7 linked regions of the Homo sapiens genome follow. The protein of the gene in region 1 purifies or fractionates together with the protein of each later gene. This does not show direct contact. Each region holds a gene or a part of one and is shown in the gene's direction. Other genes may lie near its edges.

What was found.
Region 2: the proteins of SMCHD1 (region 1) and WARS1 fractionate together in Homo sapiens (co-fractionation; one large-scale study listed by BioGRID). This does not show direct contact.
Region 3: the proteins of SMCHD1 (region 1) and AHCY purify together in Homo sapiens (affinity purification with mass spectrometry, with the first as the bait; one large-scale study listed by BioGRID). This does not show direct contact.
Region 4: the proteins of SMCHD1 (region 1) and ECPAS fractionate together in Homo sapiens (co-fractionation; one large-scale study listed by BioGRID). This does not show direct contact.
Region 5: the proteins of SMCHD1 (region 1) and ALDH18A1 purify together in Homo sapiens (affinity purification with mass spectrometry, with the first as the bait; one large-scale study listed by BioGRID). This does not show direct contact.
Region 6: the proteins of SMCHD1 (region 1) and COL6A1 fractionate together in Homo sapiens (co-fractionation; one large-scale study listed by BioGRID). This does not show direct contact.
Region 7: the proteins of SMCHD1 (region 1) and PTS fractionate together in Homo sapiens (co-fractionation; one large-scale study listed by BioGRID). This does not show direct contact.

Annotation. Positions count from the first base shown.
Region 1 is NC_000018.10:2,798,113-2,802,515, forward strand, and holds part of SMCHD1 (structural maintenance of chromosomes flexible hinge domain-containing protein 1), read left to right. Parts: intron 1-1,168; coding exon of another isoform or gene 1,169-1,271; intron 1,272-2,410; exon of another isoform or gene 2,411-2,628; intron 2,629-4,403. UniProt on the Homo sapiens protein: Non-canonical member of the structural maintenance of chromosomes (SMC) protein family that plays a key role in epigenetic silencing by regulating chromatin architecture.
Region 2 is NC_000014.9:100,332,717-100,337,781, reverse strand, and holds the end of WARS1 (tryptophan--tRNA ligase, cytoplasmic), read left to right. Parts: intron 1-579; coding exon 580-720; intron 721-2,745; coding exon 2,746-2,907; 3' UTR 2,908-3,992; downstream 3,993-5,065. UniProt on the Homo sapiens protein: Catalyzes the attachment of tryptophan to tRNA(Trp) in a two-step reaction: tryptophan is first activated by ATP to form Trp-AMP and then transferred to the acceptor end of the tRNA(Trp).
Region 3 is NC_000020.11:34,292,611-34,297,117, reverse strand, and holds part of AHCY (adenosylhomocysteinase), read left to right. Parts: intron 1-1,532; coding exon 1,533-1,723; intron 1,724-2,961; coding exon 2,962-3,037; intron 3,038-4,507. UniProt on the Homo sapiens protein: Catalyzes the hydrolysis of S-adenosyl-L-homocysteine to form adenosine and homocysteine. Binds copper ions.
Region 4 is NC_000009.12:111,474,113-111,478,619, reverse strand, and holds part of ECPAS (proteasome adapter and scaffold protein ECM29), read left to right. Parts: intron 1-4,507. UniProt on the Homo sapiens protein: Adapter/scaffolding protein that binds to the 26S proteasome, motor proteins and other compartment specific proteins. May couple the proteasome to different compartments including endosome, endoplasmic reticulum and centrosome.
Region 5 is NC_000010.11:95,608,088-95,612,229, reverse strand, and holds part of ALDH18A1 (delta-1-pyrroline-5-carboxylate synthase), read left to right. Parts: intron 1-787; coding exon 788-974; intron 975-1,937; coding exon 1,938-2,033; intron 2,034-4,142. UniProt on the Homo sapiens protein: Bifunctional enzyme that converts glutamate to glutamate 5-semialdehyde, an intermediate in the biosynthesis of proline, ornithine and arginine.
Region 6 is NC_000021.9:45,984,205-45,988,711, forward strand, and holds part of COL6A1 (collagen alpha-1(VI) chain precursor), read left to right. Parts: intron 1-64; coding exon 65-265; intron 266-2,321; coding exon 2,322-2,481; intron 2,482-2,739; coding exon 2,740-2,868; intron 2,869-2,950; coding exon 2,951-2,971; intron 2,972-3,294; coding exon 3,295-3,315; intron 3,316-3,405; coding exon 3,406-3,450; intron 3,451-4,507. UniProt on the Homo sapiens protein: Collagen VI acts as a cell-binding protein.
Region 7 is NC_000011.10:112,228,849-112,232,378, forward strand, and holds part of PTS (6-pyruvoyl tetrahydrobiopterin synthase), read left to right. Parts: intron 1-1,359; coding exon 1,360-1,382; intron 1,383-1,777; coding exon 1,778-1,834; intron 1,835-3,530. UniProt on the Homo sapiens protein: Involved in the biosynthesis of tetrahydrobiopterin, an essential cofactor of aromatic amino acid hydroxylases. Catalyzes the transformation of 7,8-dihydroneopterin triphosphate into 6-pyruvoyl tetrahydropterin.

The DNA of each region.
Region 1 (4,403 bases):
TGTTTGAGGAACTGAAAAGATGTTAGTGTCTAAGGCATGGTATGGTATGCAAGAGGGAGAGGACCAAACTATTGTCGGACATAGAGGCAGAGGCCAGATTATGAAACTCCTCCCTCATCATGTTGCAAAAAAAATCTATTTTAAGTTCATTGATATCTCTTGAGTATCACACATGTAGGCATGTGAATGATGTGTTCATGGGCATGAGGTGTATACAGACTATTAAGCTGATCATTCAAAGTGTGTTGGGGCAGTTTAGCATCAGAAAGAAAGACTCTTTGCAGTGGATTTAGACATGTAACTTTTAGAAATTATGAGTTCAAAATGACGCAAAAATCCCTTATTGGTCATCATTGCTGGTTGGTAGGGCACCTGCTTGTGACTGTGAAAATTTATGTATTTATATAGAAAAGACATGTGTATGAACTATCTTCCAGGTTTCCAAATAGTTACAGAAAGTTCTTCTTTGTAAAAGTTATTCTTTGTAGAAAGTTCTTATATTGGTTAAATAATATGGTGTCTGGGATATACTCTAAAATACTCCAGGAAAATAAAGTGGCAGAGGATATCAAAATAAGACTTGGCAAAATGTTTTCATTACTAAAGCTTGAAATAGGAAATTCACTGTATTATTCCCTCTGCTTTTATATAGGTTTGCCATAATTTTTTAAAGAAGTATTTTATGAACAGTGGGATTATTTTTTAGAGAGACCAGAACCCACTTCCCACTAAGGAAATTCCTCAAGGTGCAGTTCTAGGCTAAGATGTAAGGTACATGTTTTTGTGCCACAGTCTCAGCACTAAATTTGCCCTAGACCTTCCAGTTACTACAGCGCTACTGTGGACATTGATTTGGAACTTGTTAATTAAGATTTTGTAGCAATTCAGAGGGAGTTTATGTTTTAGTTTATAATATTGTTAGTAGTATAATGATCATCGGTCATATGTGTATATATCAAATGGTATAGATTTACAGTGTTGTACTATACGTGAGTCACATATATAATTTTAAATTCTCTAGAAGCCATATTAAAAAGGAAAAAAGGAACAGTGAGATTAATTTTAATAATAGATATTATTGAACCCAATATCCAAAATATTTCTACATGTAAACAACGTTAAAAATGATTAATGAGCTATTTTACATTCTTTTTTTTTAAATACAAAGTCTTCACAATTCAGAAGACAGCAAATCTCAATTAGGACTAGCTACGTTGCAAGTACTCTGGAGCCACACACATGGCTGGTGGCTACCGTTTTGGACTGCACAGGTATAGAAAGAGCTGATGATCGTAAAATCTTGTATCCTATGCATCCTTACCCCTATTCCATCCTTCAGAGGCAACCTTTGTTTTAACTGTTAATTTTTAGTTACTCTATTGTTGCCTCCACTTTTAAAAGTTACATTATTATGACTATGTAAATATTGTTCAGGCAAATATTGTACTAAGCAAACTTGTGTGCTAGAATTACACTTCCTTCTCTATATGGGTCTAATGTCATGACTCTTACTTAGGCCACCAGTTAGTGCTCCAAACATCAGGCTCAAATAAATCTTCCTTACTCTGTTATTCTTAAAATCACGTGAAGTGTTATTCCAATTGTTACTAAGACTCTTTCTTGTTAATTTTTCTGGAGTTTTTAATTGCCACCTTTTTTTTTCTTTCCCTATGTATCTTAATCACATCTTCTTCCTCCTGTACCAGTGACTAGTAACTGTGCAGGCCTCCTGTAAATCTGCCATCCTGGGTCTTCCTTAGTTACTCTCTTGGATTATATCCATTATTTATTGGATTCCATGTCTTTCTCTCTCTTATAAATTCCTTAGAAAAAATGTGTAGAAAGATAACTTGGAGCCCTTCTATGTCCGAAAAATGTCTTCATTTTGCGTTCACGTTTGATTGAGGTTTTCTGGAGATAACAGGATAGAAACAAGGCTAGAATATACTAGAGGTGAAGGGATTGGGAAATAGTCTAGAAATAATAGGAGACAGTCTGCCTGATTTAGCCCCAGAAACACTTTGGATTCAGAGTCAGTTAGAACAAAAGAGTGAGAAGTCCAGCAACTCTCCCTGTTTGGGAGTCCTGTCTCCCAAACAGGGAGAGTGGCAAATAAAAAGGACGGAACAGAATGGAAAAGGAAAGGAAGCCACAGCCTAGAATGTACCAGATTTTCAACCCAAACTTTGAAAGCTTTGTTTCCTTGTCAACAGGCATGAAAAGATGCCACTACAAAGTTAGATAACAATGGAAATGAATTAAATGTTGGTATATTGGCTTTTGGTAGTTGCTGGCACACTAGGACCTAATGCTGGCCTCTGGGAACTAAAAGGCTGATAACTGGCTCTGCACCTGCACATTTATCTATTTTGATTTTAATTCAACAATTTTTACTTTATTTATTTTGTAGAGATGGGGTCTTGCTGTGTTGACCAGGCTGGTCTCAAGCTCCTGGGCTTAAGCTACTCTCCTGCCGCGGCCTCCCAAAGTACTGAGATTACAGGCCTGAGTCACCATGCTCGGCCCAACATCCACATGTTTAAAGCAAAACCTGTGGACCCATGACGTTGATTTGCCCTATCCCAGTTATAGTTACCATCAAGTCCCACTCGGAGAAGAGACTTGTTGGTAAAACAGTTCTATTTTTATAATAGTAGAAGAAATTCCAGCTAGCAATGTAATCCTCTTTCTTAAATGTAATTGTACAACTAACAGTCATCACACATATGAGGGTAGCCAGCAACGTGAGAGACAAAATTCAAGATTAAGTTCCAAAATCAACATGGAGGACAATTTAGTAAAGAGACTAGACCTCTTTTATAAAATTATAATTACTATGTAGCAGAAAGGAGCCAGGACAAGAATGAATAAACAGATTACAAATATTGTTGCTGAAATAAAAATGTTCAATAGGAGGATTAAAGTCCAAAAAGAAAACTTCCCCAATACAAAAAGAGATAGAAGACATAGAGAACCAATTCAGACTATTAGGAATCTAGAAAGAAGAAAATGGAGAAGGAAATGCTATCATGTGGAAGAGGATTTCCTAGGGATGAATAAAATTCATTGAATGCCCAGCAACAGTGACTGACAAAATACTCACTAAGATACTTCATAGTAATACTGTATCATATCAAGGAGAGGGAGAAAGAGTGTCAGTGATTTTAGAGAAGCCAAAGAACCATATTTTCAGTGCAGCCTTTAGTACATGGGGAGACACACACACAAAGCTATCATTTGTTTAGCTTTGTGATGGCGGTATTAGAAGTTTAGGTGGAAAATTTGGTGTATTCTGGACTGCGACTTTCTCCTCTTTGCATCCTGATTATATTCATGAAATTTGTTAAAATCACTATGAGGGATTTTCTCATCCTCAGTCTTTTCCTATTCTCTATAAATCTTTAATAAATCTCACACTCTCAAGAGGTCAGAGCATTTGAAATAAAAATCTTAACAGTATTGAATATTGGTATATTTCATCCATACAATCAGGAACAAATTTAATAGTAGGAAAGGAAATAGGTACATTATATGTGTTTCTGTATATTTATGTTTATGTTTTTATTTACATATGTATACTGAATATATATTTGTTACTGCTTATAGATCACATACTATGTTTCATCAACTTTAAGATTTCATTAACTATAAAAATGTCATTTTATGAAACATTAAAGAAAAATATTGCAAATTAACTCATGACCTTATAAAGTACATCTGGATTTCAGAGATGTTAAGTGTGAAAAAATATCTTAGAATTCATTAGATATGCTTAGCAATATATGATACTATGCAGTAGATTCCATTGTTTTCTTGAATAGAGGCTTCAGTTTTCTAAATAATTTTCCACTTATAAAGATTAAAAATTAGTTCTGTTAAAAATATGTATCATCTTCTATTTGGAGATAGTTCAGGGAACTATTAGAAAATATTTACATATACCTGAATTTTTAAAATCTGTAGCTATATATGTCAAGGTGCTCACTGTGTTCATCTCTACATGAATGAGATTATGAATATTAAATGTTTTATTTTGCTTGTCTTTGTTACTTTTCTGTAATAAGCATTATAATTCCTGTTCTTAAAATAATAAGTTCATTTAAGGAAAAGGGGGTGAAAGGAAAAATCTGCAGAATTTAGGTCTGAGATAATACCATTTCAAAGCACTGTGATACAAATTACTTATATATGTTATATACTGTGTGTGTGTTAACTACTTTTATTTGGGGGCTTGTTTTGCATACATGTGAAGGAAATGATTATATATAAGGATTTAATTAAATCTGTTTATACCAAGAATTATATTTAAAAGAATATGGTTTCATTGGATATTTAAGCATTCAGGTGTGATGAGGGAATTCAGGGAAAGGAAACCTTTGGTACATAAAACTTTTTTTTCTTTC
Region 2 (5,065 bases), on another chromosome or scaffold:
AGTCTGAGCGATCCTTCCACCTCAGCCTCCCGAGTCGCTAGGACTACAGGCGCACGTCACCACACCAGCTAATTCCTTTTTTTTTTTTTTTTTGGCAGAGAGGAGGGCTCACTAAGTTACCCAGACTGGTCTTGACCTCCTGGCCTCAATCGATCCTCCCCCCTCAGCCTCCCAAAATGCTGAGATTACTGGCACAAGCTACCATGTCTGGCCTTACCCATCCTTTTTCTGACGCTTGTTACCTGAGGAACTTGTCTGTCCCAGGTTTCAGTTCAATCAGTGCCTTGGCTTTCCCAACTCTATTCTCCTGTGTCTCCGAGGATGGGGGGTTCAAAGCTCATCTGCCCCCACCTCTCCTGCAGTGAGCCCCACAGTAGCTCACACCCAAGCCTCACAGGAAGAACAGCAGTGGGTCCCCCACTGGCTGTGCGCCCCCAACCGGCTGTGCGCCTTGGCCTTTCCCGGGTCCAGAATCTGACAGCACTCACACCTCTGACTTCCACACTTGGGCTTCTAGCCAGTGTCCAGGCACAGGATGAGCAGGACTGAGGAGCGTGTCTGTGTCCTCTTCTGGTGCAGGTCAATAAGCATGCGTTTTCTGGAGGGAGAGACACCATCGAGGAGCACAGGCAGTTTGGGGGCAACTGTGATGTGGACGTGTCTTTCATGTACCTGACCTTCTTCCTCGAGGACGACGACAAGCTCGAGCAGATCAGGAAGGTGAGCAGGGAACCCCAAGGGCCCACAGCCGCCTTCTGCCACCCACTCCTGCCCATGGGGCCTGGAAGGCTCCAACAGCCAGGCATGAAGGCTTGGTCGGAGGTGCTCAACTGAAACAAGGTGAAAACTGAGTAGACTCGCCCTCATGGTTTTTAGGCCTGGGCTCAGAAGCCTCATGAACAAATCTCGAAAGAGCAGATACAAATCACTATTCATTTAGGAGCCACCCAAAACAGTCTTGCTTTATTAGTCATCAGAGAAATGTAAGTTAACGTGATCAAAGCTAAGACAGTTGAGTATAGAATTAGTAGGGGCTTTTGTGTTGCCATTGACTATTTTCAGTGATTATGAAGCAGATGCTTCAAGGCACACTCAAGTGAGCAGAGTGTTTATCAGCACAGCCTCAGGAAGCAGTTTGGTACTGGGTACAAAGAGCCCAAAAATGTTCAGAGCTTCTCCTCAGGTTTTCTCATTCTTAGATTTTTTCCAAGGAAATAATCCTGAGTAAGAGAAAGCTTTCCACACAAAGATGTTAAAAATGATAATAGCAAAAAGTTCAACACAGACTCAGTACAACAGAGGAAACGTTAAATTAGAATTGTTACAGGGTGGATTATTATGCGGGCATGAACTATTTTAAGTGTTCATATGCAGGGCATGGTGGCACACATCTGTAGCCCCTGCTACTTGGGAAGCTGAGACAGGAGGATCCCTTGAGCCCAGGAGTTCAAATCCAGCCTGGGCGACATAGCAAGACCCTCATTTCTTTCTTTTTTTTTTTTTTTTGAGACAGAGTCCTGCTCTGTCACCCAGGCTGGAGTGCAGTGGCGCAATCTCGGCTCACTGCAAGCTCTGCCTCCCGGGTTCACACCATTCTCCTGCCTCAGCCTCCCGAGTAGCTGGGACTACAGGCACCCGCCACCATGCCCGGCTAATTTTTTTGTATTTTTAGTAGAGACAGGGTTTTACCGTCTTATTCAAGATGGTCTCGACCTCCCGACCTCGTGATCCACCCGCCTTGGCCTCCCAAAGTGCTTGGATTACAGCTGTGACCACCGCGTCCAGCCAAGACCCTCATTTCTTTTAAAAAAAAAAAAGTTTTAGTGACACAGGAAAATATGCCTATGATAGTGAAAAAAGGATACCAAATGAAAACTCAGGGAGGAGTTAACTATGTTTAAATGAAATGCACAGGGAAAGAAATGTGAAGAAAATCTACCAAATGTTAGCGGGAGACCCACCTCTGGGCATTTTTCAGGTGGGCAATTTGTAGGTGATTTTTCTTTACTTTGCTGCTGCTTTGTGGTTTGGGTACTTTATTAAATTTGCTTAATGAGCATGCAGTACAATCAGAAAAAGAAAAAATTAGCAAGATTTGGCTGGGCGCAGTGGCTCACGCCTGTAATCCTAGCACTTTGGGAGGCCGAGGCAGGTGGGGGGAGTGGATCACGAGGTCAGGAGATCGAGACCAGCCTGGCCAATATGGTGAAATCCCATCTCTACTAAAAATACAAAAATTAGCCAGGCGTGGTGGCAGGCACCTGTAATCCCAGCTACTCAGGAGGCTGAGGCAGGAGAATCACTTGAACCTGGGAGGCGGAGGTTGCAGTGAGCTGAGATCATGCCACTGCACTCCAACCTGGCAACAGAGTGAGACTCCATCTCAAAAAAAAAAAAATTAGCAAGATTTTACAGAAGCCATAAGGCTGCCAGGAATTGTTGTTGTTTAGTGCCTGGGGGAATGGCCCCTAGCATCGGTAGGGGTGGGGACTGCCCTCCCCATTGGCCCTTTCACTGTGAGAGGCCAAGTCATGGCTATCGTCAGAGCCAGGTTTCTAGCCGTTTTAGGAAAAGTGTAGCTGAAGGTATAGGTTATTGTTGTGGTAACAACAGATCTCACTTCTGAGTGCCACCCACGTGCCAGGCTCTGCATGGGTGGTGTGGGCTGAGCTGGTGCCCGAGGCAGGAAGGAGCCACTCAGGACATGTGGAGCCATCTCTCACGTGGCTGTCTCCCTCCGGGCAGGATTACACCAGCGGAGCCATGCTCACCGGTGAGCTCAAGAAGGCACTCATAGAGGTTCTGCAGCCCTTGATCGCAGAGCACCAGGCCCGGCGCAAGGAGGTCACGGATGAGATAGTGAAAGAGTTCATGACTCCCCGGAAGCTGTCCTTCGACTTTCAGTAGCACTCGTTTTACATATGCTTATAAAAGAAGTGATGTATCAGTAATGTATCAATAATCCCAGCCCAGTCAAAGCACCGCCACCTGTAGGCTTCTGTCTCATGGTAATTACTGGGCCTGGCCTCTGTAAGCCTGTGTATGTTATCAATACTGTTTCTTCCTGTGAGTTCCATTATTTCTATCTCTTATGGGCAAAGCATTGTGGGTAATTGGTGCTGGCTAACATTGCATGGTCGGATAGAGAAGTCCAGCTGTGAGTCTCTCCCCAAAGCAGCCCCACAGTGGAGCCTTTGGCTGGAAGTCCATGGGCCACCCTGTTCTTGTCCATGGAGGACTCCGAGGGTTCCAAGTATACTCTTAAGACCCACTCTGTTTAAAAATATATATTCTATGTATGCGTATATGGAATTGAAATGTCATTATTGTAACCTAGAAAGTGCTTTGAAATATTGATGTGGGGAGGTTTATTGAGCACAAGATGTATTTCAGCCCATGCCCCCTCCCAAAAAGAAATTGATAAGTAAAAGCTTCGTTATACATTTGACTAAGAAATCACCCAGCTTTAAAGCTGCTTTTAACAATGAAGATTGAACAGAGTTCAGCAATTTTGATTAAATTAAGACTTGGGGGTGAAACTTTCCAGTTTACTGAACTCCAGACCATGCATGTAGTCCACTCCAGAAATCATGCTCGCTTCCCTTGGCACACCAGTGTTCTCCTGCCAAATGACCCTAGACCCTCTGTCCTGCAGAGTCAGGGTGGCTTTTCCCCTGACTGTGTCCGATGCCAAGGAGTCCTGGCCTCCGCAGATGCTTCATTTTGACCCTTGGCTGCAGTGGAAGTCAGCACAGAGCAGTGCCCTGGCTGTGTCCCTGGACGGGTGGACTTAGCTAGGGAGAAAGTCGAGGCAGCAGCCCTCGAGGCCCTCACAGATGTCTAGGCAGGCCTCATTTCATCACGCAGCATGTGCAGGCCTGGAAGAGCAAAGCCAAATCTCAGGGAAGTCCTTGGTTGATGTATCTGGGTCTCCTCTGGAGCACTCTGCCCTCCTGTCACCCAGTAGAGTAAATAAACTTCCTTGGCTCCTGCTCTTGTCATTGTGCTCTGTCTGGGAGGTCTGAGGAGGGAGCAGAGACCCCTCCCCTCACCCTTCTGTGGATGACCTTGAGTCTGCTGGAGTCAAAATTTGGGGATGAAAGCGCACAGTCCCAGGAACCCCATGGTGTTGTGCCACAGCTCCCAGGAATGGGCTTGTGCTGGGAGAGCCCTTAGCAGCATCCTGGTGCGGGCTCCCTCTCACACCACATTTCTCATTTCCAGCAGCTGATGGAGAATGCAAGCAGAGGTTGTCCTCGCTTTTCAGAGGAGGGGCTGGCCGTGGGGTGCTTAGTGGTGCTGTGTAGTGACGGGGAGCACAGGCTGGGAGCCAGGTCGGGCCCCATTCACATGAGGCCCAGGGCAGAGGCCGAGCTGCAAGGGAGCCCTGGGCTCATTCTACCGGCCCATCCTTATTTTGCAAGTAGGGAAACTGAGGCTTAGGAGAGGAGAACATGACTTGTCCAAGGCCATAGGGTGACTCTGATACAGCGAGTCTGTCCTGACTCTTGGTGCTTTCCACACACATACAGAGGGACCATTTTACAAATGAGGGAACTACGGTTCCCACCCTGGAGGCTGGAGGCCTGGGCTCGAGTCCCACTCAGGTACCCGGGTGCACCATGACCTCAAGTAGGCTTCCTCTCCCGGTCTCGACTCCTGCTGGCCTGGGCCCCACCCCTGCCCTCCCCTGCTCACCTGGCTGGCTATGGCCAGTGGGGGTGAGCCACCCACAGAGGCCACATAGCTCACTAGCCTGTTGCCTTGGGCAACTAATATGACTCCTCGTCGCTCTACTGCACCTGTGACGCAAGTGCAATGAGGGGTGACAAATGGAGTCAGTGACAGCTGCTGCTGTCATTGTCCACCCAGCCACAGCATCTATTGGCAGGGCCCTGGTGAGACCCTGGCCCCAGGGAGGAGTGAGCCAACACCAACCAGCTTCTCCCCTCACCGGCTGTGTGACTCTGGCCAGGTCACTTAACCTCCCAGGACCTCCATCTCCTCCCCTGTAAAAAGCAGTGATGCCTCCTGTTTAGGGTCTTAGGAGGGGTGCCCTGGGTCC
Region 3 (4,507 bases), on another chromosome or scaffold:
TTCTCACCTGACAGGCCACAGCCTTGTTGGAGCTTGGCCTCTGGAAGGAGAAAACCAGAAAGATGAGGCGTGGCTAGAGTTGGGTGCTTGAAGTCCAGATTTCCAAGGAGAGCTATCACTGGTGATGGCCTACTAGGGTAGGAGGGCTGGGGTGGGTGGCTTGAGTTGAGGCACAGCCGGAGTGGTCTCTCATGCGGGAGGCGTGTTTCATCTCTGAAATTGTTAAAATGCACTGTAGGAAGCTGACTGACAGACAATTTTATTGATTATTAAATTCTTAGATTATTAAATTCTCTACAGAGTCCTTTGCCTCCCACCGCCTACCTCTTTGGGTGTTTGGCAGGATCTCAGCTTCCCTAAAGATAAAAATCACCAGGAGTCTTAGACCTGCTGAATCATATTTTCCAGGGGAGATTTACAAGCATGCCAGAGGAACATCCCTTACCGGGGAAGTCTGCAAACTTTGACCTAGGGACTGACCTAGGGTATGACCTTGGAAGTGGACCAGTGTGGTAGGGGAGAGTATTGAGATAGTGAGTTAGCTCATAATAATATCCTTCTTTCCTGCCTGAGAATTTGAACAAATTCGAGACATTTTAGGTGGCAGATAGCACCTGAAATACTTTTTGTTACTAGTAACCATGAAGCCAGAGGATGTAGATTAGTATTTTAGGTGGCAACACCTGAAATATTACCTTTTATTACTAATAACCTCAAAGCCAGAGGATATAGATTAATATGAAATCCAAATGATCCTGCTTATTGAACCCCCAGATTCAGCAGTTACCCAATCAGTTGCAGGCAAGGTGGGCCAGGGTAGGTTGGTCTCTGGAAAAGCAGAGAACACCAGCTTCCTGCAAGTGGGCAGGTGAGTGCTTGCTTGCAAAAAGAAGGGAGAGCTAAGCTGAGCACACCATTTTTTCCTCTCAGTTTTACTGGTCAGACAAGCTCACCCCACCTCCCCTGGGGCAGAGAGGCCAAGAGCATTCGTTATACGGATGAGTTCCTCCAGGTGGAAAGAAACATCAGGAGTGGGGAAGCATTTTTACATCTAAAAGGAGATCAAGGAACTGTCAAATCCAAAATGTTAGATAGTATTTATAAGTGTTGAATCACCGAGAGTGATGACTGAGAGAGGAAGATGGAGAACCAGCAGCTAACATCTTTAGGGAGTCTTTAGGGAGTGAGGAGTGGCCTGGAGGTTGGTAGGTGTCAGCAGAAAGGCAGGGTAGTGGGAAGTATCATGTGAGCTATTTTTCAAAGGGACGCTTCTTTATGTTGTAATTTTTGTGTCCCTGTGTGATTAAATGTGTTCTCCCACAAGTCAGAAAGGTGCAGGTAGGCAGGGACCGTGTCTTTCTTGAGTACTCTGGCTTCATAAATACTTGTTGCATGAGTGAGAGAATGCGGTGACAGAGTGCTAAGCCCTAGTGTGTTGAGTCCACACGTGGATCGGGGTCCATGCAGTGACCGCCCCTCTTGGTTGGTGGGATGAGGGGACTCACGGAACTCCCACCTGTTTCCTCCCGTAGCCGACATCGGCCTGGCTGCCTGGGGACGCAAGGCCCTGGACATTGCTGAGAACGAGATGCCGGGCCTGATGCGTATGCGGGAGCGGTACTCGGCCTCCAAGCCACTGAAGGGCGCCCGCATCGCTGGCTGCCTGCACATGACCGTGGAGACGGCCGTCCTCATTGAGACCCTCGTCACCCTGGGTGCTGAGGTGAGGCCCACAGCTGTATCACCCCAGAGTCCTTGCCCTCCCTGGGTTCAGCCAGGGAAGAAGACGACTGTGCCAGGGTGGGGACCTTCCAGGTGTGGAGCTGACCGCGGGCCTGGAGGGGTTCCTCCCTCTCACTCGGTTTCCTCCGTTTCCCAGTGCTGCCACCCCTTGTGGTGAGTGTTCTGCAGATTTTCTCCCTGGCTGGGAAGGTCACTGTTGGCTACCCTCAAGGCATCCTCCTGATGGATGCTCTGGCAGGAAAAATTCAACACCCATGTCCTACTTAGTCTCTTAAGGGCCAGCTTGCCTTGGCCCTTCGGGGGTCACAGGCCTACCCTGGACCCATCATGGCTGCTGGATGATGGCAGCTCTGATTGGTTCAGCCTGGGTCATGTGTGCCAATGATTAACAGCTCTCCTAAGGTCTCAGAGAGTCAAGAAGCAAGCTGGTTTCCCAAAGCAGGGTAGGGCAATGGAGCCAAAATCCACAGAGGGGCTCAGGGCTGAGTCCTTGGACCTCTTCTTTCTTTTCAGCATTCACTCTTGGCGGTCTGATTTTATAGCTTTAGACACTATCTGGTGATGACTGTCACATTTTTGTACTAGCCTGGACTTCTCCTGGAACTCAAGACTGGCATATCCAGGAGCGGGGGCGTTGACGCTCCCTGGAGGTCTAGTACTCATCTCAGGCAGAACGCGTTCAAACAGACTCAGGATTTTCTGCCCCCTCTTCTTCCCAAAGCCTTCCCCACCTGAGTAAATGGAACCTCTGTTCCAGCCTTCTGGGTTCTCTCAATTCACGAATCTGGGAGTCATCTCCTCCCCTCCCTTTCCTCCCCACTCCCAACTCCCTTTACTCCAACAACTCATCCCTCTGCAAATCCTGTCAGTGCAGCCTTCAGAGTAGACCCAGGATGTGACAACTTCTCATCATCTCCACTGCTACTGTCATATTTCTTGTCTGGAGTCTTCTCCAACAGTCTCTGCAGTTGTCCCCTTGCTTCCACCCTTTCCCTTCCACACAGCACTGGAGTGAGGTTTTAAAACCTGAGTTGGATCTCGCCCCTGCTCTGGCTCCCATCTGCCCACCCAGCATCCCCAGCCTGTGATCCTAGAGCTTGCTGTGCCTAGATCCCAAGCCTCTCCCCACTACCCGAAGCTCTCCCTTTTCCTCGCCCAGCGTCCCTGGTGCTTTTGAGCCATCAGTGACCAACAGCCTTGTTTTGATGGCTCTTCTAGGTGCAGTGGTCCAGCTGCAACATCTTCTCCACCCAGGACCATGCGGCGGCTGCCATTGCCAAGGCTGGCATTCCGGGTAAGTCCTGCTTGCTTCTGAGACGTGGAATTTGTGAAGGGATTCTGCCCTCTTTGCTTCACTGACTGCTAGAGCAACAGACTTCCTTACATATCAGAAAGGGAGAGGAGTCACCGCCACAAAATCCTAGCCCAGCGACCCCACAGGAAAGAGCTGCTTTGTCCCATCATCATCTAAAATCCTGTGGAAGTTGTTTATTGACCCAGGTCAAGCCGTGTAACCAGGAAGAGCAAGATCTTATGATTGGGAACTACATGATGAAGCGGAGGGGAAGTTCATTAAAGGAAGGATGTGGATCTCTTTCCAAAGAACTGGGGAGGGCTACGGGGCAGAAAAAGAGGTTCACTGCCTAGGGTATGGCGGTCTAAAGGACTGAGGAAGGACCAAGTCTAACGAGAATGGAGTTTTCACAGGCTGGGCACATGTCTGCTTGGACTTGGGGAGGGGAGTGGTTAGATCTGACCCAGTGATTAGGACATTCAAGATTGCTTCTAACCAACCACAGGTGGACAGGAGGGGGTGGCACAGCACTCCTTCACAGACTGACCAGGGCTGAATGGGCATGATCCCCATTCCTCAGCCTTGGCACCGTGGCTTTCTTCTTTTTTTTTTTTCTTTTTGAGACAGAGTCTTGCCCCGTTGCCCATACTGGAGTGCAGTGGTGCGATCTTGGCTCACTGCAATTCTTAAGACTATTGTCTGCTCCAGTTGTGGGTAGAAGCAGCTGGCTCTGCTTGGCCAGCGTCCTTTGCTCACAAGAGGCTCCTGGGAACCCCACACCTGTGCCCTAGTCATGCCACATGGGAGGAGTGTGGGCTGGTGGTCAGTAGCCCTCAGTTCTGGTGTCTATTCTGGAATTTCATTTAGAGTGGCCCAAGTGCGTCTTAGCTCCTCTCTGGGCATCTGTAAGTGATGATAATGGTCATGGCTGCCTCACAGGGTTTCTATGAGGAAGAATGAGATGGGGTATGGAGGATTTAGAGTCATGTCTGGCAGAAAGCAAGTACCCCACACATGGTAGCTGCTCGTAGTCATTTTTTGGCCAGACTTTGCCTGAGATTCCCCCACACAGAGGCTGCTAGTGCTCCAGTCCTTTCAGTGCAGAGCAAACCCTGGATCCTGCCGTGTGGATCCTGCTGAGGGGGAGGCGTTGTGGGGTATCAAGCCCTGGTCACTCAGGGTTGATGCCTCAGTCCTTGGCGCCCAGGCAGAAGGGGATGGGAAAGGAAAGAATGATTTCCTGATATCTATATCTGGGGCGGGGGGCTGTACATGGCTTCTGTCTCACTTAATCCATACTATTGTGAGCCCTATTTACAGAGGAGAAGACTGAGGCTCAGAGAGGTGAAGTGATTTGCCCAAGGTCACACAGCTGGCAAGTGGCAGAGCCAGGGTTTGAACTCAGATCTATCTGGCTCCAAGTTGTGTCCTGACCACTGCTGAGTTTTCAGAGGGGCCGGAGGTGGCTGG
Region 4 (4,507 bases), on another chromosome or scaffold:
ATCTGCTACCACACTTTGTAGGAGAAGCAAAATTGACTGTTAGGGTTCTCTTTTATTTTATTTATTTATTTATTTGTTTATTATTTTGTTTTTGAGATGGAGTCTCGCACTGTTGTCCAGGCTGGAGTGCCGTGGTGCAATCTCAGATCACTGCAACCTCTGCCTTCTGGGTTCAAGCGATTCTCCTGCCTCAGCCTCCTGAGTAGCTGGGATTACAGGTGTGCGACACTGCGCCTGACTTATTTTTGTATTTTTAGTAGAGACGGGGTTTCACCATGTTGGCCAGGCTGGTCTCGAACTCCTGACCTCGTGATCCACCCACCTCTGCCTCCCAAAGTGCTGGGATTACAGGCGTGAGCCACTGTGTCCGGCCTATTTATTTTTTTTGAGTAATACCATTGAGCATGAAGTTGCCAGAAGGCTGGGTGCGGTGACTCAAGTTTGTAATCCCAGCGCTTTGGGAGGTCGAGGTGGTCAGATCACTTGAGTCCAGGAGTTCGAGACCAGCCTGGGCAACATGGTGAAACCCTGTTACTACAAAAAATATAAAAATTAGCTGGGTGTGTTGGCATGCGCCTGTAGTCCCAGCTACTTGGGAGGCTGAGTGGGGAGGATGGCTTGCACCCAGGAAGTCAAGACTGCAGTGAGCTGAGATCACACCACTGCACTCTAGCCTGGGTGACAAAGCGAGACCTTGTTTCAAAAAAAAAAAAAAAAAAGTTGCCAAAAATAGGCAGGTTAATTTTGGGGTGAGACTTGTTATTGTTAGCATTTGTTATCCTTTCACAAACCTCATGTTTGAGTCAGTGATTATAATAGAAGAATAGTAAAGCTGTTTATTTATTGTGTGTTTACCGTGTGTTCTAATTGTTTTGCATGTATCAACTAATTGAATCCTCAGAACAACCCTGTGAGTTTGGTACTGGTACTGTCTCAGGGGTAGAGCTACCCTCATTAGACAGTTAGGACTTGAACTTAGATTCTCTGATTGCAAAATTTGTATTAATTCTGCCCTACTACTACTGTGTTATTCCTGTCCTGCATGGGAGAATATATAGTTCATAACAAGATCAAAATGGCTTTTTGTGTGTGTGTGTGTGTCTAACTAGTATCCAGAGAGAACCTTCTGTAGTGTATAAAATGTGGCAATCGGGGCCAGGCGCAGTATCCAGAAAGAACCTTCTGTAGTGTATAAGATGTGGCAATCAGGGCTGGAGCGGTGCCTCACACCTGTAATCCCAGCACTCTGGGAGGCCGAGGCTGGGGGATAAGTTGAGAGCAGGAGTTCAAGACCAGCCTGGCCAACATGATGAAACCCCCGTCTCTACTAAAAATACAAAAAAATTAGCCGGGTGTTGGGACGTGCACCTGTAGTCCCAGCTTCTTGGGAGGCTGAGGCAGGAGAATTGCTTGAACCTGGGAACTGGAGGATGCAGTGAGCTGAGAACGCACCACTGCACTCTAGCCTGGGTGACAGAGCTAGACTCCATCTCAAAAAAAAGAAAAAAAAGAAAAAAGGACCAGGCGCGGTGGCTCACGCCTGTAATCCCAGCACTTTGGGAGGCTGAGGCAGGTGGATCACCTGACGTTGGGAGTTCGAGACCAGCCTGACCAACATGGAGAAACCCCATCTCTACTAAAAATACAAAATTAGGCAGACCTGGTGGCGCATGCCTGTAATCCCAGCTACTTGGGAAGCTGAGGTTTAGAGTTCCTGAGGTTTGAGGTCAGGAGTTCAAGACTAGCCTGGCCAACATTGTGAAACCCTGTCTCTACTGAAAATACAAAAATTAGCTGGTTGTGGTGGCACACGCCTGTAGTTCCAGCTACTCAGGAGGCTGAGGCAGGAGAATCACTTGAACCTGGGAGGCAGAGATTGCAGTGAGCCAAGATTGTGCCACTGCACTCCAGCCTGGGTGACAGAGTGAGACTCCCACTTGAACCCGGGAGGCGGAGGTTGTGGTGAGCTGAGATTGCATCATTGCCCTCCAGCCTGGGCAACTAGAGTGAAACTCCATCTCAAAAAAAAAAAAAAAAAAAAAAAATTCTGATGTTACTGAACAGAACATAGTAGATTTTTGGGTATGTTGCCAAAAAAGAAAACCATTAGTTTTGACTGTTAAAGGCAGTTCTGAAATCTAGTTTGTAAATTAGTTTAGGTCAGAGCCTGTAGCTTTCTTTCCTTATGCTTAGAGTGATTATAACTATTGCAAATGAAATGAAATTCAATGCAAGACATGTGGCTAGTTTTTCTGCTAATACTATCTTCTGCCACTTTATGGAAAAGTTGACATTATAGTTAATATTTCAGGAGTGGGTTGAGAGATTTCCAACAGGGAAGGAAGCATTTGAGACTTTTCACCTGGTCAGCTGTTTAGTGGTTTCGTATTCTGGGCTTTATAATTATAAGGCATCCTTAGAATCTGATCTTCGTTGGGATAAAGGCAACTCATGAAGGAGCAACAGCCTATAATCTTGAAGGATGCACTATTCAATTTGACCATTTGACATAGCCATGGGAAACTTCAGTTGCAAAAGTTGGCCAGATAATCAGCATGTCAGGTGTCTTCTGAGAGAGCCTCTGCTAGTGCTGGGAATCCTGGTAGCTCTTTTAGAGGATGAGATTTGGGAAGCTGTGTGTTGAACATGATTCTGTGACCATACTGAAATAGCCCCTAAGAGCTAATTGCTTAAATGACCAGAATACAGGCTTCCAAGCTGATCTTTGTAGAAAGGCCAAGGCAAGCCTGTATCATTTAAATTTTAGTTACTTAACCAAATAGGAAAGTTAAGATGGAAAAATGACCACGGATATTTCTATTTTTTATTAATTTCCATTCTGATTTTTTTACTTTCACTGCATTCTGGGTTTTTTTTTTTTTTGAAACTAGAGTCTCACTCTGTCACTCAGGCTGGAGTACAGAGGCACAATCTTGGCTCATTGCAACCTCTGCCTCCCAGGTTCAAGTGATTCTCCTGTCTCAGCCTCCTGAGTAGCTGGGACTACAAGGCGTGCACCATCACAACTGGCTAATTTTTGTATTTTTAGTACAGATGGGGTTTCACAATGTTGGCCAGGCTGGTCTTGAACTCCTGACCTCAAGTGATCTGCCTGCCTCGGCCTCCCAAAGTGCTGGGATTATTGGCTTGAGCCACTGCACCTGGCCCACCACATTCTGTTTTGAATTATGCTTTCAGTAAACTATAATATGTGATCAAGGCCATTGTCAGTGAGAATAGTTGGCACAGGAGCATTGACCTTGTTCAGAAGATAGATGTTAAAATTGAAGTCACTGCCAGTGTTCTCAGATGGTTTGATCCCTGTTGCTGAGCTCTCGTTTCAGACCTGGCCTTGATGCTTCCCATTTTATATGGCTTGTTTTGCCCATGTATTTTTTCAATTCAATAAGCAGACTTTTAAAATTGAGTAAATAATGTATGGTGCTGTCCTCAGAGGGCTTATAATTCAGTGCAGAGACAGATTTATGTGCAAATGTAAATAACATACACAAAGCACGGTAAGTAAACTGCCTAACACAGTTCTTTGGAAACCTCAAGAAATGAGAATGGTATTTGAGGCTAAAGGAAAAATAGCTTGAGCTGAGACTTGGAGATAGGGAAATATTATGCAAAACAAAAAAAGCTGAGTAAGTCTGTTATGATGGGAATGGGGGTGCTACGGCTGTGTGAAGTACTGGGAAAGGGGATCAGCTGTGTGGTTTGAGACTTGGCCCATGCTGCCTTTATGATTTGAGATCTTGGACAAATTACCTTACCTTTGCAAGTCTCAGTTTCTTCCTCATAAAATTGGAATGACAAGATTCACTCATAGTATTGTTAGGATTAATGTATGTGAAAATGTACTGTGTAAACACTTAAGCTCTTATAAATTATTATTATTTTTGGTGTGGGATGTAATAGCAGATGATGCTGTGGAGATAGGTTGGGACCAGCATGTTGTAGGAATGCCAACAGAACTAGTTTGGACTTTGTTCTGTAGACAGTAGAGAACCATCAGAGCTTTTAAGCAGGAGCGTAACATGAGTAGGTCTGTTTTGTACGGGTAACAGGTGGCATTGGTGTAACACTGATTGCAAGGATCCGGAGATCAAGAGCAGCAAGACTAATTAGGAGGGTATCACAATGGCCAAGTAAAAAGAAACTTAGGGTCTGAGTTGGGACAGTGGAAGTGGATTTGGCAAGGAGTTAATATAATGTAAAATCCCTAAAATAGGGAGAAATTGTTGGCTGACGAGATGAGGGTTGTTGAAGAAGGGAGGAGTTAGAGATGAATCTAAATCTGACCTGAGACTAGAAGGTGGAGGAGTAACAGAGAGTGTAGCCTCTAGACAGATTTAGGAAAGTGAAGGAAAGAGAGAACAGATTCAACAGATAGGTAGTCTGTGTTCAGCAGAAAGATTATTTGTTGAATGAATGGGTTGAATTATTGAGCCCCCATGTTGTTCAGGGAGACTGCTTTGAGTAGTGGCTAAAACCTCTGGAACTG
Region 5 (4,142 bases), on another chromosome or scaffold:
CAGTTTCAGGTGCTGAAAGCACCTGACCAAGTACTGCTTACCTCTAAAGCAAACCTGGGACTTCGCTAGGGTACAGGGAGTAGCAATGTATATGTGGCACCTCCCTTTTTCCACACGAGTCTAGTGCCTAGGTACCATATGCAGGAACTGGGATCTTTATTGTCAAGTATTCATTTTAGGAAAATGCCAGAAGTCAAGCCCTTGTGTTGATAACCCACTAAACGCCTTGCACATTCTTTTTTATTCTTTTTTTTTTCTTTGAGACGGAGTCTTGCTCTGTGCCCCAGGCTGGAGTGCAGTGGCACAATCTTGGCTCACTGCAACCTCTGCCTTCCAGGTTCAAGCAGTTCTCCTCCTGCTTGAACCTCCCAAGTAGCTGAGATTACAGGCACCTGCCACCATGCCCTGCTAATTTTTTTAGTAAAGACGGGGTTTCACCATGTTGGCCAGGTTGGTTTTTGAACTCCTGACCTCAAGTTATCCACCCGTCTCAGCCTCCCAAAGTACTGGGATTACAGGCGTGAGCCACCATGCCCGGCCCACCTTGCACATCCTTAACGTTCAAGGCTTCCTGCTTCAATCCCTGTTCCAACTGTCTTGAGGGCCCATTGCTGGCAAGTGGCCAGTCAGATCATGCTGGAGGGAGGAAAGTAGGACTAGTTCAGTTGTTGAGGCTACAGGAGCCACTTTGGGCTGTGGTTTTACAGGCTCACCTTTCTGTTCTATCCTAGAACTTGCTTATTTCAGTTGTTTTTATGTTGTTGCCCCTGGACTTCCTCTGTTCCAGGTAAAAATTCATGCAGGCCCCAAATTTGCCTCCTATCTGACCTTCAGCCCCTCCGAAGTGAAGTCACTCCGAACTGAGTATGGGGACCTGGAATTATGCATTGAAGTAGTGGACAACGTTCAGGATGCCATTGACCACATCCACAAGTATGGCAGCTCCCACACGGATGTCATCGTCACAGAGGACGGTCAGTGTCCAGATGCTTCCCGCATACAGTGTCTGCCTTTGCTGCTTTCTGATCCTGCTCCTCTTAGCCCCCCTTGGGCTGCAGAAAAACATCATTTGAGTAGGCTTATGGTAATGTTTAGTAGTGGTTGCATTTGGTACTTTGATGAGTGCTTTCACATCACTTTATTATATTGTCACAGCTGGAGGAGGAGGGGCAGGGATGATTAGCTCTGCTTCGAAGATGACTAACCCTGTCAGAGGCACTATCATTTAATGCGTGCAGCAAATCTTACAAGGTAGTTAAAATAAACCCATTTTACAGCTGAGGAAACCAAGGCAGAACCAACTCTGCACATTCATTCATTCATTCATTTATTCCACAAATATGTATGCAGGGACACTCCTGGGTGTCAGATACTGGAGCCTCAATGGTGGAGGATGCCAGTAGGGCCCCAATGAGGAATTTACAGTCAGCTAATTAGGGCACCAGAGCAGTACCACCCGTATTAACAGCCAACATTTACCAAGCACTCACTGTGTGCTAGGCACTAGCATGAGTACTCCCCAGGTGTTTCATCCTCTCTACAACCCTATCAGCTAGGTCATGTTGTAAGTCCCTTTTGACCCAGACACAGAGAGTTTTGTACACCTGCAGAAGGTCACAAAGCTAGCAGGTGTACAGCTGGAGTTCAGGCCTAGGAAGTCTGGCTCTGGAGCCCATAAGTAGGAAGTTTAGGCAGGTCACCTGCATGGGAGATCTGGATTCCAACTCAGTCTTTCCACAACACCGTGATTGATGAAGCTAACTTGTCTTCTTCCTGTTGAGATTTTTCATAAGCCTGAGTATTTAATACGTGAGAACACATGGAGAGGCCCCAGTGGGGACCCAGACCCTGCCCTGATCTGTCACCAGTCAATGGCTGGAAACAGGGATGTTCTCTGGGTATCATCCTAACTTGGTTTCTCCTTCTTCACCCTGCAGAAAACACAGCGGAGTTCTTCCTGCAGCACGTAGACAGTGCCTGTGTGTTCTGGAATGCCAGCACTCGCTTTTCTGATGGTTACCGCTTTGGACTGGGTAAGAAAGACTCTGGTTGGGAAGAAAGAAGTTCCTTGTGAAGCACTGTGTGGTCTAGGGGTATGTTGAGGTGGGAAAGACACCTCCCCTTGACTGTCACATGCTTGGTCAAGATAAGAGAGAAACAGGCTGGGTGCCGTGGCTCACGCCTGTAATCCCAGCACTTTGGGAGGCCGAGGTGGGTGGATCACCTGAGGTCAGGAGTTCGAGACCAGCGTGGCCAACATGGTGAAACCCTGTCTCTACTAAAAATGCAAAAAATTAGCCAGGTGTGGTGGTGCATGCCTGTAATCCCAGCTACTCAGGAGGCTGAGGCAGGAGAATTGCTTGAACCCGGGAGGCAGAGGTTGCGGTGAGCCCGAGATTACGCTACAGCACTCCAGCCTGGAGGACAGAGTGAGACACCATCTCAAAAAAAAAAAAAAAATAGAGACAGACTTCTGGCAAGGTAGGATTATCAGGGAGAATAATTAATGAAACCTCCCATGAGTTGGTGGAAGGCCTATCTTCTAAGCATTTCACATGCTAAGAAGGCAGGTACTTGTATTCATTTTTCAAAGAGGGAGAATGAGATTCAGAGAAGTATAGTAACTTGCCCAAAGTCCCACAGCTGGCATTCAGACCCAAACTTGAGCAAGTCCAAAGCCTGGGTTCTCCCGCTACAGCGTGGGCAACCACAGCCTGCCTTTTTACACAGGCTGCGCCAGAGGTACATGCTGTGTCCCTTGAGAGCACTCCTTTTACAGACTTATTTCGTCAAAATGGCACAGCCAGGTTGCCTCGGAGATAGGAAACCCCACAATGGTAGGACAAAAGAAGGTGCCGTGGGCCTAAGTACCAGCATCAAAACAAACAGGCCAGCCAGAAGTACAAGGTTACCTTCTACAGCAGACCTTGAAATAAAAAGCTTCAGAAGGGCACTTCTGTCCCTTTCCATTAGGTATAAAATTTCCAGCCCTCTGTCGTGTTGGGGTTATTTGGACAGTCTCTCGTTTTCAGGGGTACCAGTATATAAAACTCCAGAACGGGCGCAGTGGCTCACGCCTATAATTCCAGCACTTTGGGAGGCCAAGGCGGGCAGATCACCTGAGGCCGGGAGTTGGAGATCAGCGTGACCAACATAGAGAAACCCCATCTCTACTAAAAATACAAAATTAGCTGAGCATGGTGGCACTTGCCTGTAATCCCAGCTACTCGGGAGGCTGAGGCAGGAGAATCGCTTGAACCTGGGAGGCAGAGGTTGCAGTGAGCCGAGACCGCACCATTGCGCTCTAGCCTGGGCAACAAGAGCTAAACTCCATCTCAAAAAACAAAACAGACAAAAAACCTCCAATAATACATTTATGACACGTTTTCTGAATATTTGAGAATTATTTCAACCACTCAAAACATTTTAGGCCACGGGCAGTGGCTCACACCTGTAATCCCGGCACTTTGAGAGGCTGAAGCAGGAGGATCTCATGAGTCGGGGAGTTCGAGACCAGCCTGGGCAACGCAGCGAGACCTCCTCTCTACAGAGATGAAAAAATTATCCAGGTGTGGTGGCGTGAGCCTGTAGTCCCAGTTACTCAGGAGGCTGAGGCAAGAGGATCCCTTGAGCCCAGGAGTTCGAGGCTGCAGTGAGCTAAGATGATGCCATTGTACTCCAGCCTGGGAGAGAGTGAGGCCCTATCTGTATAACAAAACAAAACAGAAAGACACACATTTTAATCCTTCTGAACTTTTTGAGTAGATGATCTGCCTGGAGAAATAATTCTCACCAAATTGTTAAAAGGTTATGAAAGGGAATTTAACTCAGTTATTCTTAATCATGATACTCTTTATTTTTAGTTCCCCATTTGTATTATGTTGGGATTTTGATGTAATTATCACATCACTTGCATTGATCTTTATACTCTCCATGTACTTGAAAAAGAAATAGCAACATATTTTTAAGGGCTGGGGCACCCAGCATTCAAATGAAAATCCAGGATGAAGGAAGAACAAAAGATCATTTCATTGTCCTTCCAACACCAGCTCAGAGTGAAAGCTGGTTGAGTTAAATTCCTTGTGAAATGCATTAATGACAGTAACAGATTTTACTGAGCATTTACTACATTCCCAGCACTG
Region 6 (4,507 bases), on another chromosome or scaffold:
TGGGACGGGTAGCGATGGCGCCAGGGGCCGCCCGCCTCACGCCCGCCGTGCCTGTTCCTGGCAGGTACTACCGCTGTGACCGAAACCTGGTGTGGAACGCAGGCGCGCTGCACTACAGTGACGAGGTGGAGATCATCCAAGGCCTCACGCGCATGCCTGGCGGCCGCGACGCACTCAAAAGCAGCGTGGACGCGGTCAAGTACTTTGGGAAGGGCACCTACACCGACTGCGCTATCAAGAAGGGGCTGGAGCAGCTCCTCGTGGGGTGAGTGGCCCCCAGCCTCCTGCCCACGCCAGTTCTCACGCGTGGTACCCAGCCTGGGCTGGGGTTGGCCTGGGGTCCCTGTGCGGCTTCAGCTGCAGCCTCCCTGTTCTCTTGGAGGCTGCACGGCCTCCCTGACCCACTTTGTGGGCAGGAAAGAGACGGAGACAGACAGAGACAGAGAGAAACAGAAACAGGGAGAAACAGACACAGAGAGAGACAGAGACAGAGAGAGATAGAGACAGAGACAGAGAGAGACAGAGACAAAGAGTGACAGAGGGACCAAGACAGGCAGACAGAGACAAACAGAGACAGAGACAGAGACACAGAGAGAGACACAGAGAGACAGAGACGGGAACAGAGACAGGCAGACAGAGACAGAGAGAGACAGAGACAGAAACAGAGACAGAGGGACAGAGACAGGCAGAGAGAGACAGAGAGACAGAGACAGAGACAGACAAACAGAGACAGAGAGACAGAAACAGGGACAGAGACAGAAAGAGAGAGAGACAGAGGGAAACAGAGAGAGACAGAGACAGATAGAAAAAGACAGAGGCAGAGAGAAGCAGAGACAGAGAAACAAAGACAGTCAGAGACAGACAGAGACAGAGACAGAAACAGAGACAGAGAGACAGAGACAGAGGGGCAGAGACAGGCAGACAGAGAGACAGAGACAGAGACAGCGAAACAGAGACAGAAACATACAGAGACAGAGAGACAGAGAGAAGCAGAGACAGACAGAGGCAGAGAGACAGAGAGAAGCAGAGACAGGGACAGAGACAGAGACAGAAATAGAGAGATAGAGACAGAGGGACAGAGACAGAGAGATAGAGACAGAGAGGGAGACAGAGAGATAGAAGCAGAGAGAGAGAGACAAAGACAGAGGCAGAGAGACAGAGAGAGAAGCACAGACAGAGACAGACAGAGAGACAGGGACAGACAGAGACAGAGAGACCGGAAACAGAGGCAGAGAGACTGAGAGACTGAGAGAGACGGGGTGGTTTTCCCCACAGCATCAACACCAAGCAGGGCTAGGATCACTGAAACAGACTCATCAGACCCGAAGCATGCGCTTTCTCGGGGTTTTTCTGGACTGAGGGGTTTCCTCTCATCCCAGTGTCCAGCTGTGGGGACGCAGGGGCCGCAAGCCCCGGAGTGTCCAGAGGGGAACGTGGCCTCCCCACACCCAGCCCTTCACGAGGCCTCAGGATCCCAGTGGGGGTACCCGAGGCTGCCCTGTCCAGCCAGGCGGTGCGGGGGGTTTGGGGAGAGCCTCTCCCCGAGGTCGGTCTCAGAGGGCCACATGGCCGGTGTGGGCCGGACATTCCCTTTCCAATGGTTGTGCCCACTTCCCTCCAGAGTTGGTGCCAAGCTGGGACCTGGGGGACTTGGAGTCTCAGGAAGTCGTCCGCTGTCTGCAGGGGGTGCATGGGGGATGTGGCCACACACGTCAGAGTGCGGCCCCCTGTGGAAGCCACAGACAGACACGACTCCCCTAAATGAGCTCGCCCTTCTGGCCGAGATGCTCAGCGTCCCCAGCAGGCTGCCCGACTGCCCTGCGATACTGCCCTCCTTCCTGCTGCTCCCACTTTCCCTTTCGGGGGGTTGGATTTGGGGCATTCAGGGATCGCCCTGTTGTTTGCTCATCACACCCATTTCCTGCAAGAGCCACGGTGACCGAGCAGCCTTGAGTTGAGGCAGCTTGTGGGTAGACGCGGCGGGCATCTCGGAGGGGCACGCTCCCTGCCACCCTCAGCCTCCACTCACTGGTCAGGGGCTTTGCGCCCCAGGGCACCCCAGGAACCGAGCCTCCTTTGGGGTCATGGGTGCCTCTCCTGGGAGGGCGTGGATTTTCCAAAGCAGTTTAGAGAAATGAGACCCACAGGCGTTATTTCCCATGGTGAGGTTCTTTTCAGTAACCCCCACCGTATAGCCAGGATCAGCAAAGAGAGGCGGCTCCTCCCGGTGAGACAGGGACCAGCACCTCCCGGACAGGCTTGGGTCTCCCTCCAGTTCCCCCACCTAGTCTCGAGGTCTCACGCTGCCCTCTCCTGTCCAGGGGCTCCCACCTGAAGGAGAATAAGTACCTGATTGTGGTGACCGACGGGCACCCCCTGGAGGGCTACAAGGAACCCTGTGGGGGGCTGGAGGATGCTGTGAACGAGGCCAAGCACCTGGGCGTCAAAGTCTTCTCGGTGGCCATCACACCCGACCACCTGGTAGGCACCGGCCCCCCCCGGCAGATGCCCCCAACCACAGGGAGTGGCGGCTGCAAGGCCCCCGGCAGCTGGGACCGTCTTTTGGTCCTCGGGAGGGTGTGGGTTCTCCAGCCGGCCACCCTTGCCCCTGAGAGGCCAGCCCCTCCTGCTGAGGAGCCTGGAGCGCCCCAGCCCAGCCTCCCCTCTGGCCCTGTGGGAAGCGGCCCCGGCCGTCAGGGGTCCCAGCCCTGCTCAGCCCACCCTGAACACTGCCCCCAGGAGCCGCGTCTGAGCATCATCGCCACGGACCACACGTACCGGCGCAACTTCACGGCGGCTGACTGGGGCCAGAGCCGCGACGCAGAGGAGGCCATCAGCCAGACCATCGACACCATCGTGGACATGATCGTGAGGCCCCTGCCCAGGAGACGGGGAGGCCCGCGGCGGCCGCAGGTGGAAAGTAATTCTGCGTTTCCATTTCTCTTTCCAGAAAAATAACGTGGAGCAAGTGGTAAGAGCCCTCCCCACCACCCCCAGCCGTGAGTCTGCACACGTCCACCCACACGTCCACCTGTGTGTTCAGGACGCATGTCCCTATGCATATCCGCCCATGTGCCCGGGACACATGTCCCCTGCGTGTCTGCCCGTGTGCCCGGGATGTGTGTCCCCCTGCGTGTCCACCTGTGTGTCTGCCCATGTGCCTGGGACATGTGTCCGCCTGTGCGTCCATCCGTGTGTCCGTCTGCCCATGTGCCTGGGTCGCATGTCACCCTGTGTCCCAGCCGTATGTCCGTGGCTTTCCCACTGACTCGTCTCCATGCTTTCCCCCCACAGTGCTGCTCCTTCGAATGCCAGGTGAGTGTGCCCCCCGACCCCTGACCCCGCGCCCTGCACCCTGGGAACCTGAGTCTGGGGTCCTGGCTGACCGTCCCCTCTGCCTTGCAGCCTGCAAGAGGACCTCCGGGGCTCCGGGGCGACCCCGGCTTTGAGGTGAGTGGTGACTCCTGCTCCTCCCATGTGTTGTGGGGCCTGGGAGTGGGGGTGGCAGGACCAAAGCCTCCTGGGCACCCAAGTCCACCATGAGGATCCAGAGGGGACGGCGGGGGTCCAGATGGAGGGGACGGCGGGGGTCCAGATGGAGGGGACGGCGGGAGTCCAGATGGAGGGGATGGCGGGGTCCAGATGGAGGGGACGGCGGGGTCCAGATGGAGGGGACGGCGGGGTCCAGATGGAGGGGATGGCGGGGTCCAGATGGAGGGGACGGCGGGGTCCAGATGGAGGGGACGGCGGGGTCCAGATGGAGGGGACGTCGGGGCTCCAGATGGAGGGGACGGCGGGAGTCCAGATGGAGGGGACGGCGGGGTCCAGATGGAGGGGACGGCGGGGTCCAGATGGAGGGGACGGCGGGGTCCAGATGGAGGGGACGTCGGGGCTCCAGATGGAGGGGACGGCGGGAGTCCAGATGGAGGGGACGGCGTGGTCCAGATGGAGGGGACGGCGGGGTCCAGATGGAGGGGACGTCGGGGCTCCAGATGGAGGGGACGGCGGGGGTCCAGATGGAGGGGACGGCGGGGTCCAGATGGAGGGGACGGCGGGGTCCAGATGGAGGGGACGGCGGGGTCCAGATGGAGGGGACGGCGGGGTCCAGATGGAGGGGACGGCGGGGTCCAGATGGAGGGGACGGCGGGAGTCCAGATGGAGGGGACGGCGTGGTCCAGATGGAGGGGACGGCGGGGTCCAGATGGAGGGGACGTCGGGGCTCCAGATGGAGGGGACGGCGGGGTCCAGATGGAGGGGATGTCGGGGTCCAGATGGAAGGGACGGCGGGGTCCAGCAGGCAGGCTCCGGCCGTGCAGGGTGTGGACTGTCCCGGGGGCGCTGGGGGCTTCTGAGGGTGTCTCTGTCCGCCCTGCCCTCAGCCGCACTCTGTTCAGAAGGACCTTTCTGGAGGTAGGAGGGTGAGAATGTGGGTCCCCTGCTTCTGTGTGGCTCACATAGGATGACCTTAAACGTTAGAATTAGCTGCTGATAATTAAAACTTGCCATG
Region 7 (3,530 bases), on another chromosome or scaffold:
TTAAGTTTTACCTTGCAATGTCAACTCTTACAAACAGTCCAAAACAATGAATGGTTTAAAGCATTTTTCTTTGTCCTAGAGTACACAACAAGTTTCTTTCTGATTAGGTATGGCCAAGGCTAATGTTAAAATTAGATTTTATTCTTTGAGTAAATAATGACTGACAAAAGGGGAATGTTGCCTAGGAATGTAATGTATGGCAGAAAAATAGGTTTGGTCTAAAGCTTTGCCAGCAGTGTTCGAAGAAAGTAGGTAATTTGTTCAAGGATAAGAGACTTGATTCTTTGAGGTACAGCCTGCCTTAAAAAACAGGTACATAAGTCGTAGAGTATAAAACAGTATGTGGTGTGGTGGCATAAAAAAAAACAGACAAGGTGTCAGGAGATTAGGATTACTGGTTTAGCTACAGCCTCTTCCTTAATCTATGGTATCTCAGTCTCAGTGTACTCACTTACATGTAATATCTAATGGTATTTGTACAGAACTAAAATACATAAATTCATAAAAGTTATTAATGTGTAAAGCACTGATAAAGTTTTTTTTTGTTGTTGTTGTTTTTTTTTTTGAGATGGAGTTCCACTCTTTTTGCCCAGGCTGGAATGGTGTGATCTCCCGTCACTACAACCTCCACCTCCCAGGTTCGAGCGATTCTCCAGCCTCAGCCTCCCGAGTAGCTGAGATTACAGGCGCCCGCCACTATGCCTGGCTAATTTTTGTATTTTTAGTAGAGATGGGGTTTCACCATGTTGGCCAGGCTGCTCTCAAACTCCAGACCTCAGGTGATCTGCCCGCCTCGGCCTCCCGAAGTGCTGGGATTACAGGCTTGAGCCACCACGCCTGGCCAAGATTTTTCAAATGCTTCTCACAAGCACTTTTTAATTTACAAAGCATTACTTTAGACTTTGTATACATTCATGTGAGTAAGGGGACAAGAATTTAAGGCCCAGTAGTATTGCTTGTTCAGAAAGGTACTGCTCAGTATTGGACCAGCTTGCTGTGTAGCTGGACACCTGAAAGACATTTTCTACTTCTACAGGCAGAGACTGAGCAGCATCTTGATGCTCCCTAGTGCATTAACATAAGCAGAATTTACACCCTTTTCAGCCTTGGCCGAGTGCCTCTGCTTAGCCAACATTCCTACTAAGCTCCTTTGTCTCGATTGTGTCTTGCTTTGGTTGCTAAAAAAAAAATCTTAACTAAAATAACAGATGTTTTGGGGTAAATATTTAAGTATAGCTTTTGGGGACAGATCTAATAATTTATGTTGCCAACTTGTGCTTGTATGTTGCTAACTTGTGCTTGGATGTTGATCTGTTGAAAGTCATGCTGTTTTTTTTGTATTTTGTTTTCTTTCCATAGTTGTGGTGACAGTACATGGAGAGGTATGTGCAGAAAATATTTGTGTGGTTTTTGCAGATTGCTGGGCTCTCTTTCAGCCAGTGTGGTGGATTCTGTGTTGAAAACTGTTCCAGTCAGTATTGCTTCATTGTTGGCCCTTGTATATGTGTGTGTGGTGAGCTGCCGCCATTCCAGGCCTCTCCTCTACCAAAGTGTTGTCTTTAATATGCTGTATGTGGACAGGTAGAAGGGCTATACAATGAAAAGGATGCTTGAAGTACATGGTGCTTCCATGCTGAGGTCAATGATTATCTCTGGGATGAAGGCAAATGTGCAAATGTGGGCACAGTCTCTGCACATTGTACTGCCTTTAATAATTTGCCAGCCGTTTAATATGGAGAGCCTATCACAGTAATATTCACCTTTGTTTATTCTTTAGATTGACCCTGCTACGGGAATGGTTATGAATCTGGCTGATCTCAAAAAATATATGGAGGTAATGGCATGTTGGGTGCTTATTATGTGCTATTCCCTAACTGTAATATTTGGTGGCCCCCTATCTACCTCCCCAACCAGTTATCTCCTAAGGTTCCATGACTTTGTGAATAGAACTGGATGTGGGTGTTGGGGAATAGTTGGAAGAACTGCTCGCATGGCCTCTAAAGGTGTTTTGGTGACTTAACGGAAATTAGTCACAGTTGTGTTACAGCGATGGGAGGAAATATAACATGCTCACCTTGTATTCCTTGTTGGAATATCCTGATTTCCTTCAGTTAACAAATTCTCCATTTCTTTTAAGACATAGCTTTCTCCTTGAGACTTACTGTCTTTCTTTTTTTTTTTTTTTTTAAATAGGCACAGAACCAATGCAAACTTTTCTTTTTGGTAGAGGTAGGGGTCTCACTATGTTGTTCAGGCTGGTCTCAGACACCTCCTGCCTTGACCTCCCAAAGTGCTGGAATTACAGGCATGAGCTACTGCTCCTGGCCTTCTCCTTGGAGCTTTCTCTTCCCTCTCTGAATATTCCTTGTACCTTTGATCATAGATTTAGACACCACACTGTGTTGTTCATTCTAGCTTTATTATAAACTCACCAGAGCAGTACCTCATAGAGATAACACACAAGGTGTTCAATGAAGAACTTAACTGATTGTGTCATTATAGAATTCTTGCACTGTAAGAGACTTTGGAGATTATTCAGACCAACTTCTTCAACCCATAGATTAAGATTGAGAGATGCTGAACAGTTAACTGACTTGCCCCAGGTCATATGGCTAGTCATTTGCAAAGCTGGGAGTAGATTTCTTTCCTTCCAGCTGTTTTATTATGCTGTCATTTCACTTGCAGCTTAGGTTTGTTCTGAGATTTGACATTTGCTTGATTAAAATGATGTTATTAGTAATGATTACTTCTTTCACATTACTTATTCATATATTCAACAAATTTCTCTACTTCGCATCAGTTTTTGAGCTAAGTGTACAAAGATGAATGAGATGTAGCCCACAGAGTGTATACATTACTTTTTCTAGGAGGTGAAGAATATTATTAAATAACTGTTGATTTAATAAATGAGTAGAAGAATGAGTGAATGAAGAAACAGCACTATGCTCAAAATACTTTAGGAAAGTTATACAGATAGGGCCAGCATGCATTTATGGGGCAGGGGTTGGGGGGCAGGCGGAGAGAGAGAGAGAGGGAGACAGAGACAGGAGAAGAGGAGGGGGAGGGGAGGACAGGGGAGGAGAGGGGAGGGGAAAGAAAGAAAAAGAAAAAGAGAAAAGAAAAGAAAAGAAAGAAAAGAGACAAGACAGCAACATAAAAGGCCTCAACATATGACTAAATACTGGAGGAGGGCTTCTCTATGCTGTTTTCTGCTTTTGTATGCCTGAAGGACACCACACACTTTCATCAGTAAAAGTGGCTTATCATGGCATGTAGAGTAAAGTTAGAGCTCTACCGTGGGGGGAGGATTGCTTGAGTCCAGGAGTTCAAGGCTGCAGTGAGCTATGATTATGCCACTTGCACTCCAGCCTGGATGACAGAGACCCTGTCTCTAAAAACAAAACAAAAGAAAACAAAAAGCCCTGCATAAGAGGCTTTAATGGAGAAATTGGGACTGGAACTGGGATTGAAGATGAAGCAAGGATGCCCGTTTTCTTGTTATTCATGTGGAACATCCCTTCATTGGATAT